Linked DNA regions of Homo sapiens: region 1 is linked to region 2. The links come from fine-mapping of genetic effects on gene expression. A gene starts in region 2. The other region holds a variant in brackets. All regions are shown on one strand. Distances are from middle to middle. Region 1 overlaps CPSF7 (cleavage and polyadenylation specific factor 7). Region 2 holds the start of CYB561A3 (cytochrome b561 family member A3).

What was found. PIP is the estimated chance that this variant, and not a neighbour inherited with it, causes the effect. A credible set is the group of variants that fine-mapping cannot tell apart.
Region 1: its variant is the best candidate, but not a certain one, in a credible set for the expression of CYB561A3 in whole blood (INTERVAL, PIP 0.83).

What each region holds. Positions count from the first base shown.
Region 1 is chr11:61,414,184-61,419,556 of GRCh38, reverse strand. CPSF7 (cleavage and polyadenylation specific factor 7) reads left to right here. Exons shown (of 10, transcript NM_001142565.3): 6 at 3,038-3,452; 7 at 3,773-3,891. Among named protein-coding and RNA genes, the nearest start is that of CPSF7, 13 kb to the left of the region's middle. The variant A/C (reference allele first, on the strand shown) is at 2,802.
Region 2 is chr11:61,359,313-61,364,642 of GRCh38, reverse strand. CYB561A3 (cytochrome b561 family member A3) reads left to right here and starts at 2,761. Exons shown (of 7, transcript NM_153611.6): 1 at 2,761-2,910. It overlaps TMEM138 (transmembrane protein 138), which reads right to left and starts at 2,269. Exons shown (of 5, transcript NM_016464.5): 1 at 2,223-2,269; 2 at 125-391. The coding sequence starts at 252. RefSeq lists enhancers at 2,251-2,740, 2,151-2,872, 2,991-3,210.

The DNA of each region.
Region 1 (5,373 bases), 55 kb before region 2:
TGCCTCTCTATAAATTATCAAGAAGCAGCCACCCTAAAATGTAACTAAAAGGTGCCTATAATCTTTTCATAAACGTTGATTGGAAGGATACTGTAAGGAATCAACCAAGAGGAGTGTTGGAGAATAAGACTTGAACAATATTTCTCCAGCATTGTCCAGGGGAGAGGGTGCTCTTTTGATTACCAAATGTTTTAGTCTGCTTGGCAGTTATATCCCATTAGTAAAGAAAGTTACAGGCCGGGCGCGGTGGCTCACGCCTATAATCCCAGCACTTTGAGAGGCCGAGGTGGGTGGATCACGAGGTCAAGAGTTTGAGACCAGCCTGGCCAACATGGTGAAACCCCATCTCTACTAAGAATACAAAAATTAGCCGGGTGTGGGTGACACATGCCTGTAATCCCAGCTACACGGGAGACTGAGGCAGGAGAATTGCTTGACCCCGGGAGACGGAGGTTGCTGTGAGCTGAGATCAGACCACTGCACTCCAGCCTGGGCAACAGAGCAAGACTCCATCTTGGAGGGAAAATAAAAAAGTTAGGGGCTGGGCATGGTGGCTCACACCTGTAATCCCAGTGCTTTGGAAGGCTGAGGCGGGCAGATACCTGAGGTCAGGAGTTCGAGACCAGCCTGGGCAACATGGCAAAACCCTGTCTTTACTAAAAATACAAAACTTAACCAGTTATGGTGGCACATGCTTATAATCTCAGCTACTCGGGAGTCTGAGGCAGGTGAATCTCTTGAATCCAGGAGGTGGAGGTTGCAGTGACCTGAGATTGCACCACTGCCTTCCAGCCTGGGTGACAGAGTGAGACTCTGTCTCAAAAAAAAAAAAGAAAAAAGAAAGTTACCTCAGAACTACCTTAGTTTGAGGACAGTTTCCCCAATGTCCATCTTACTCTCTTTATTCTGACTGTACTCACTAAGCCACTTTCTGATGCTAATTTGGTTTCCCAATTAGGGTCTCCTACTAGGAAGAGAATTCGCTGACCAGCCGACACAAGTATTCTGGTCTGCTTGGCAATTACATTTCTCATTGTAAATTAATAAATTGGTGTTATGGTTTATGAATCAGTCTCTTGTGAGTTTGGTTAGCATGAATCAGTCTCCTAGGGCCTAGTCACCCCAGTTGAAGCAAGTTTCTGAACCTGAGAAACCTGAGGACTAGACCTTGGATTTTCCTGACCTCATAAAGTGCAGCCACCCTGCAAGACCTTCCCTGAGACAGCCAACCACCCTTATTTTCTTTTGCTACAGTGGGAGGAACAGCAAAGTTTCATCACTGATGTTCTGTCACTGCTTAGGTCCAGCTCTCAAAATAGTGCCTTGTATTGATTGGGTGTATCCTCCAGGTAGAAATAGGACCACTTTGCTCTTGCATAGGAACAGCTGTTCTTTTAACTAGATTGACAGCCTAGATAGATTTGGTGTGAACTCTTGTTGTTCCATGTTAGAAAGGACACACTCTTCTTCCTTGACAAGTTGTATTTTCAAGTCCCCTCTGTTTTGGAGTCTTTCTGTAATTCACCCCTGACTTTCCTTAGGTATGTAATTTTACAACTGTATTGGGGGTAACGTTCTACTTCTACTCAGCTACTTTTCATGTTACTTTTTTTTGCTGAAAAGATTGTGTAACTGAGTGCTGTTTTTCTGCTCTGTCATGCTGATGGACCTGGGCTCTGTTAATTCACTAAGTAAAGCTGGTGGACTTCCTCTGCATAGAAATGTTGCGTCTTTTGGGACTTGTAGCCATAGATACAAAACAACCTTTGCAGATGTGACAACAGTAGTAGCTGGGAAAGTGGTTAACTGTCAGATGACACTTGCCTTATACCTTTTTGTTCTTCAGTTTGAGAGAACTCTAGGAAAGAGCCAGTTGCCATGTGTTTGAGACCTGAAGAACAAGACAGCACTGGCACTGTTCTGTAAGAGAAATCTAGGTGGTTGTCAACATAATTGATTCCACCTTAGGCTTTACTCAGGAGCTGGGATTAACTATCATATTCTAGTTTAAGGAGCACTCTTTCCTCCACACTTGCTGCCAGTGGCATCTTTCTATCTCCAAGACCCCCCCAAAGCCATGTGATCTTGTTCTTCTATTGGATTCCACAATAAACAGGCTTAGACTGTTAAACTGGAGAGAAGGAACAAGTTTAACCAAGTGACTTGACAATGTCAGAATCCATGCTTCCAGCTGTTTAAAACATGTTCTGAGCTCCTGTTGTGCACAGCACCATACTAGCATGTGGTGATGGTGTTCCTGTTAGGCTGCCCTGAAGGGTAGAGGATTTTGGCCATTGAAATGTAGCGGGAGTTCCCCAGATTGGAGACATGTTTTGTAGCAAGCTTTTGCTAAGCATCCTTACTGTCAGCTGTGTGCTATCTGCTTGTGCTGTGGGCGGATCTTTTATTGGCGTATCTCCCAATTTTTCTTATCTTTCACTTAACCTCCAGTTGTCTAGTCTTCATGTGTGTCTCTTTCTCACCCTGATTACTAGTTTTAGTATGTAAATAGAAGTGCCATCCAGTTCCTGCCACTCCCTCTCTTCCCTTAAATTCCCTAGCCAACACCCTGTGGCAAAGAGAACATTTTAAGTGTGCAACAGGAAGAGGTTAACTAGTATTAGTTTAAGGAGAGAGGTCCTGAACTCTTCAGGAGATGTGGGGTTTCAAGTCAACTGCAATTCACCTGAACATCAGTGAACACTGTCATTTTCTCGTGGGCTATCAGGATCCTTCTACATTTAAAAATAGAAGATACATATAAGGATAAATTAAATCTGTTCTGAAGCACTTCTGGAGTT[A/C]TGGATGGAAAACATTCTTTGACAGGATTTAGGACGATATTGTTTTTTGGATTTAATGTCTTCACTGAGTTGCTTCTGACCTCTGAAGCCAAAAAAAAGGCAGTAGATGATTTTACCTTCTCAGCCTCTTTAGTCACCTTCCTTTGTAGGGTGTCTGATAACTTCTGAAGGATGAACTGGTCCTGTGGGTTTGTGTAAAGCCTGGGCAGTAACATCAGTTCTGTTTTGCTTCATAGGAATACCTCCACGGGCCCATTCCCGAGATTCTAGTGATTCTGCTGATGGACGGGCCACACCCTCTGAGAACCTTGTACCCTCATCTGCTCGTGTGGATAAGCCCCCCAGTGTGCTGCCCTACTTCAATCGTCCTCCTTCGGCCCTTCCCCTGATGGGTCTGCCCCCACCACCAATTCCACCCCCACCACCTCTCTCCTCAAGCTTTGGGGTCCCTCCTCCTCCTCCTGGTATCCACTACCAGCATCTCATGCCCCCACCTCCTCGATTACCTCCTCATCTTGCTGTACCTCCCCCTGGGGCCATCCCACCTGCCCTTCACCTCAATCCAGCCTTCTTCCCCCCACCAAACGCTACAGTGGGGCCTCCACCAGATACTTACATGAAGGCCTCTGCCCCCTATAACCACCATGGCAGGTAAGGACTATTGTTCCTTTCAGATTTGAGCCAGGGTAAATAAGTGTATTAAGCATTTTATTCTCCCTGAGAAAGTGAGCACTGAATCCTTGTTCTTTCCCTTATAGACATTCTGTTATCATAGCATTGACTCCTGGGAAGTAGTACCATGTCCTTTATACCCCTTTTTAAGGTGCTTAATTAAATGCGGGAGCAGGTGTTATGAATGCTACAGATGTCTAGCATTGTTCTGTGTTATGCCAAAATTACCAAAGTGTTGTAGAGTACAGTAAAAATAATAAGGGATGTGAGCAATCAAGGATGGTATTTTCTCTGTACAGCCGAGATTCGGGCCCTCCACCCTCTACAGTGAGTGAAGCCGAATTTGAAGATATCATGAAGCGAAACAGAGCAATTTCCAGCAGTGCCATTTCCAAAGCAGTATCTGGAGCCAGTGCAGGTAACTCAGTGCTTACCTTTGCTGCCTTCTCCTTAACCTTTACTTTTTTTTCCTGATTTTGTCATTTCTACTGGCAAAAGTTCAACAAGATAAAGTTGGAGTACTGTAGATATCAAGAGCGGCATACTTTGAAGAGCAATATGTAACCTGATTTCTTGGCCTTGGGGAAGCTCCGGCAGTATTACTTAGTCTGTATCTAGGCCTGCCCTCATGAAAACCAACTTAATGCCTAGAATATAAATAATTAATACCATCTCGATGTGGTGTTTGCTGTAGAGTGAAATTCCTGCCTTGTGGAAATCTCCATCTCAGTGGTTGATCTTTAGATCTAGTGTCTGTGTAGTAGACCCAATACCAGATATAGACCCTGGGTCTTCTTTAGGAATGATGTTTTGACTGGATAATGTGTTTTTTTGTTTGTTTGTTTTGAGAGGGAGTCTTGCCCTGTCGCCCAGGCTGGAGTGCAGTGGTGCAATCTTGGCTCACTACAGCCTCCACCTCCTGGTTTCAAGCGATTCTCCTGCCTCAGCCTCCCAAGTAGCTGGGATTACAGGCACTTGCCACCACGCCCGGCTAATTTTTGTATTTTTTTGTAGAGACAGGGTTTCATCATATTGGCCAGGATGGTCTTGAACTCCTGACCACAAGTGATCCGCCTGTCTCGGCCTCCCAAAGTGCTAGGATTACAGGTGTGAGCCACCACGTCCAGCCTAGATAATGGTTTGCTATGAAATCTGATTACATTTAGGAGTCTAAGCAGAGCTGGTAGGTAGCCTATCCTAAAAAGAGGCAAGTCTGTAGATGTCATCTTAAGGCATGTTATGCCCTTACAGCTAACTTTTGCCCTGCTCTCATTATTAAGTGGGTAGAACCAGCAGCCATGATTCTGAAAGCCCTGAGCATAAGATCTTTAGTTTCTAAAAGAAGAGGCTACAGGAAGTTTCAGAGTTCTGGTCCGGTTTTCACATCGTGACATTAGCCATATTCACTTCCTTCCTGTGAGTTTCCTACATGAATGTAAATGTCTGTAGATTATCAGATCTCCTAAGAAATAAGTTAGCCCTAAATATTATCATCTGCTTTCCATCAGTTTTCATCTTTGCATCATCTTGCCAAACTTGAATCCACAGAGAAGGTTAAAGACAGAAAGTACATATGTTCCCTTCATTTTTTTCCCACCAGAAAAATCTACATTGACATCTAAATTAGTCTTTTTTAGGCCAGGTGCAGTGGCTCATGCCTGTAGTCCCAGCACTTTGGGAGGCCAAGGCCGGTAAATCACTTGAGGTCAGGAGTTTGAGACCAGCATGGCAAAACCCCATCTCTACTAATAATACAAAAATAAGCCAGGCATGGTGGCACATGCCTATAGACCCAGCTACTTGGGAGGCTGAGGCACGAGAATTGAGAATTGCTTGAACCCAGGGCGTGGAGGTTGTGGTGAGCCGAGATTGTGCCACTGCACTCCAGCCTGGGTAACAG
Region 2 (5,330 bases):
TCCTGGGATTATGGGTGTGAGCCACCGTACCCAGCCTACTAATAACTTTAAGACACTAAATCACCACTGTCAGGGCCTTTGAATTGCGTGGGTTCAGCTTTCCAGAGTGCCTTACTGCACGCACATGAAGAGCACAAGCTGGATGACAGGAGTCTTTTGGAGCAGTTCTGAGAAGGAATTGACAAAGAGGTCATAGGACAGCAGCAGGAACTGCAGAGAGAGCACCAGGCTGTAGTTACTGGTCTGGAGCATCTTCCTTCTGTTTTCTCGGGCCCCCAAGGGCACATCCCACAGTTCCCAGAAAACCGCTCCTGGCTGTCTCCCTACCACTGAGGGAGAGGCTTCTAGTTCCTTTGAATGAGAGCTGTTTCCCTTGCTCTAAGGCAAGCACCTGTTGGAGCAAAAAGATAAGCAAGGTTAGAAATGTATTAATACCATAAACATTTACTGAGGACCTACTGTGTGCCAGGTACCACTCCAGTTGCATGGGATACTTTAGTGAACAAAACCAACAACAAAAACCCCCAAGAAGTCATTTATTCTAGGACCTTCACCAGCTTTTCTCCATGCCTGGAATCTTCTCAATGCAGAGCTGTCTCTAACCAAAGGAATCTAGTAGTATTACTGAGAAGAATGACTGCCTGGTCATGTAGTAGCGGTGGTAACAAAAATGGCAGCAAATCCTTATACATTGCTTACAATGTGCCAGGGAGTGTTCTACAAGCACTAACATTATTTAAACCTCACAAGGTAGATGACATAATACATTATTACCTTCCCCATTTTACAGATGAGAAATTTGAGGCCAAGAGAGGTAAAATAATTTGTCCAAGGTCACGTCGTTAGTAAGTGGCAGAGCTAGTATTCAGATGCAGGCTGCACGGGTCCACAGTCTGTGCTCTTAACTACTGGACTAAGCTGTCTCTTACATAATTGATAGACTAGTATTTAACTAGGCAGGAAAAATGCCAGCAAAGAAGTGTGAAGTGCCCTAGGCAGAAAAAGCAGAGAGGAAACAGGGGTCTCCTGGAAAGCTTTATCTTTAGGGTTATGGTTGCAACACAGTGGCAGTTGTTTCTTTTCATCTATTCCAAGACCCACAAGTTGCTCTGGGGGTGTCCTATGACCCGCTGCTGTGCCAAATCTATAAAGAAATTTCAAAATGCTCTGGAGTGTTAGCGATTAAATTAGCATCGGTAAAATGTTTTGCAATTTATAAGCTCTTTTCATATTTCTAACCTTACGTAATCCTACAACCATCTTGAGAAGTAGCCATTACAATGTATATTATCCCCATTTTACACAGAGGCTCCGGAAGGTTAAGGCACCTCCTCCACCTCAGCTGGTGAAGTCCCACCTTATTGGACATATGTTCGCGGTTTCCTCATTCATTAAATTTTAGAGAGAGAGAGAGTGTCTCGCTCTGTCGCCAGGCTGGAGTGCAGTGGCATGATCTTGGCTCACTGCAACCTCCGCCTCTCGGGTTCAAGCGATTCTCCTGCCTCAGCCTCCCAAGTAGCTGGGACTACAGGTGCGTGCCACCACGCCTGGCTAATTTTTTGTATTTTTAGTAGAGACGGGGTTTCACCATGTTAGCCAGGATGGTCTCGATCTCCTGACCTCGTGATCCTCCCGCCTCGGCCTCCCAAAGTGCTGGGATTACAGGCGTGAGCCACTGCGCCCGGCCGCATTAAATAACACTGATAGCTACTACCTAGGTACTCACACCACGATAAACTTGTCAACCAAGATCGTTTCCTTTAATCCTCCCTACAAGTCTGCAAGGTGGGAATTATTCCTATTCTACAGGAAAGGACACAGAAGTCAGAGCTCAAGGCATTCCTCCAGGTCTCAAGTCAGCAGAACCCGGCTTCATAACTGTGACGCCAAACCCGTGCTCTTAACCACTACTCATAGGCCACCATCCAGGGCTGTTTTGAGGATCCGTTATGCAGAAACGCCCATGCCTGTCTCTACGTACGACGATCCCCTCCAGTTTAGGGCAGTGGAGACTCACAAGCTCATGAAGCTCTTTAATTCGTCCACCGCTACCTGCCGCCTTCCCTTTGTACCTAGGGCAGTATTCCTCACGCTTCCCAATCCACTTAAAAACGAGGCTTCCTTGGCAAACAACAACAAAGCATAAAACCCAAGCCCAAAACAACAGCACCAAAAATTCTGACTTCTGGTCACTTAACCCACTCCTCGTCAATCACTCTCACCTCCAAACTCCAACGTCGGTTGTCATGCGGACATCGTCCCGGCTTCCGGAAGCCGGCTTTAAATTCCGGAAGTAAATGGAGGAGGCGGGCCCCGTCTGCGCCGTGCGGCCTGCTAGTCCCCGGCTTTCTCTTCCCGCTCTATGGCCAGTCTGGCCGCCATGTTGGAGCTTTCGCTGTTCGGGGCCCGGCCTGCTCCGGGCCCTCCCAGCGTCGCCGCTAGCTGACTTAGGGCTCCCGCCCACACTGCGCACGGCCTTGCTGAGGGCCGGCTCGTAGTGGGAGGCTTCGCGTTCACCTGAACATTTCCGCCTCCTCTGGATGGGGGATGAGAGGCGGGGCTGATGCATCGCAGCAGTCCTGGACCCTGACTTCGGACTTGGAGAAGAAACGCCGAGGAGGAACGGGAGTTAGGGGGTTAGCAGCTTGGCGCGCTGGGAGCCGGCCACCCCTGGTCTCCGGACTTCACTTCCCAGGAGGCCTCGCGCGCGACTGGAAGTGCTGCGAGCCTATAAGAAGGCGAGGCGGCACCCGCCGCTCTGCTCTGGGGCGGCATTGCCAGCCGGCTGTAGGCATTCAGGGCAGTGTCTTCTGCATCTCCTAGGAACCTCGGGAGCGGCAGCTCCGGCGCCTGGTAGCGAGAGGCGGGTTCCGGAGATCCCGGCCTCACTTCGTCCCACTGTGGTTAGGGGTGAGAAGGATCCCGGGGCTGGGAGTTCAGGGACCTGGGTTCGAATGCTGGTTCCGCTGCTATCTCGCTTCGCACTGTCGCGATCCCCTTGCTCGGCCTCAATTTTCTCTTTTAGAAAGTGGGCACCTTTCTCCGCGCTCTTCCTTCCAACGCGGTGGTTATAAAGGCACGAAAGCTCTTCAGAGGACGCAGAAAGCACCTGGAGCTCCTCACCCCAATTTTCACCCATTGTTAGCTGGCACGAGCACCCAGCAGAGGAGTCAGGGATCACCCCTCGGGTGCCTGGAACGGTTCTTTGGACACCTGAGCCGGACCTAGGCACAGCCTGAAGTCGGGGTCTATAATTATTCCGGTGCTAAGGGGTAACTTGTTCACCTACCTCCTTGGCAGGAATATTGAGCCCTTCACTCCTCATGTTCCGACTTTAACAGAAGCTACCTTTGAGAATAAGGAATCCTCAGAGCTGAGAGGGAGTGGACCCGAATTCCTGTACCAGCTCGGCCACTTACCTTGGCTAAGTCATTTTCTTGTTTTGGGCCCCAGTGTCACAGTGTTTTTGATTTGTAAGATGAGGGTTTAGGGCTTGTATCCTAAATCTGGTCCTCAAGATTCTTGAAGTCCCCCAGTCCATCGGGGAGGGAGAGCAACAAACTGATTTTCTACCCCTTCATTTATTTGTAGTTCTAAATTATAAAAGTAACACTGCAAGAGTTTGGAGTAGAGCCTTTTTCTTTTTCTTTCTTTTTTTTTTTTCTGAGACAGAGTCTCACTCTGTCGCCCAGGCTGGAATGCAGTGGCACGATCTCGGCTCACTGCAACCTCCGCCTCCCGGGTTCAAGCGATTCCCCTGCCTCAGCCTCCCAAGTAGCTGGGATTACAGGCGCCCGCTACCGCGCCCGGCTAATTTTTGTATTTTTAGTAGAGACGGGGTTTCTCCATGTTGGTCAGGCTGGTCTCGAACTCCTGACCTCATGTGATCCGCCCGCCTCGGCTTCCCAAAGTGCTGGGATTACAGGCGTGAGCTACCGCGCCCAGCCTGCGTAGAGCCTTTTTCTAAGACTAAGGGCTGGATGGGAACTAGCATTTCTTACCCCTGGATGTGACCTGTTTTAGCTCAGCCGGGAGAATCCTTTTTCGCAAGAAGTTAATAATATCTTGTGACGTGAAAATTATGTGAAACTCAGACTTCAGTGTCCATAAATAAATATTACTGGAACACAGCCGTGGTGCTCATTTGTTAAGATGTTTATGTGGCTGCTCTTGCATGGGCAGAGTTGATGACATAGTTGTGACAGACCATGTGCTCTACAAAGCCTAGAATATTTACTACCTGGACCTTTACAGAAGAGCTTGCTGACTGCTCCCTTAGAATGGGGCTCTGCAAAGTGAGCACACCCTGGGATCACAGCCCAGCCTGCCCTTAGAACAAATGAGAGGATATTTTCAAGCATTTGCATTGCAGTTTTCACGGTTTTTTTGTTTTGTTTTGTTTTTGAGACAGAGTCTAGCTCTGTCGCCCAGGCTAGAGTGCAGTGGTGCGATCTCGGCTCACTTCAGCCTTCTCCTGGGCTCAAGCCATCCTCCCACCTCAGCCTCCTGAGTAGCTGAGACTACAGGTGGATGCCATCACGCCCAGCTAATTTTTTTTTTTTTTTAAGAGATGAGGGCTCACTGTTGCTCAGGCTGGTCTGGAACTCCTGGGTATTTATTTATAGACAGAGTCTATCTCTGTTGCACAGGCTGCAGTGCAGTGGCGTGATCTTGGCTCACTGCAACCTCTGCCTCCTGGGTTCAAGCAATTCTCGTGCCTCAGCTTCCCGAGTACCTTGGACTACAAGCGCATGCCACCGTGCCTGGCTAATTTTTGTATTTTTAGTAGAGACGGGATTTTGCCATGTTGGCCAGGCTGGTCTCGAACCCCTGACTTCAGGTAACCCACCTGCCTGGGCCTCCCAAAGTGCTGGGATTACAGGCATGAATCACTGTGCTGGTCCTTCACTGCATTCTTCCTTTTCTCCTGCTTTGCTCTATTTCAGGAAGTAGGAGGGCTTATCTGTGTATTGTGAGCAGGGCAATATAACTTTGCAGCTCTCTGTCAGGAAAGTGTGCCCAGGGTCTATTCTAAGTCTGTCACAGAGCAGTAAACCAGGACCTTTTCTAGGGTGTGGCTACAGATCCTTTCGGACTGCATTTACTTTTTCCTCTTACAAAGAAAAAAAAAACAGTTGTGGAAGTAGATATTGTCAGATGAGTGAGCCTGCTGATCAAGATCTCTTACATTTCACTGAGGGATGGAGAGTGTTTTAGGTGAATATCTGGTGATCTGAAACGTCCTCTGCCCTTGGAGGAATTGAGGAGGCAGTTCTGAGGCTGGGTAGCAAATCTCTGAGTTAAGTAGTTGAGTCACAAATCTTCTAGGA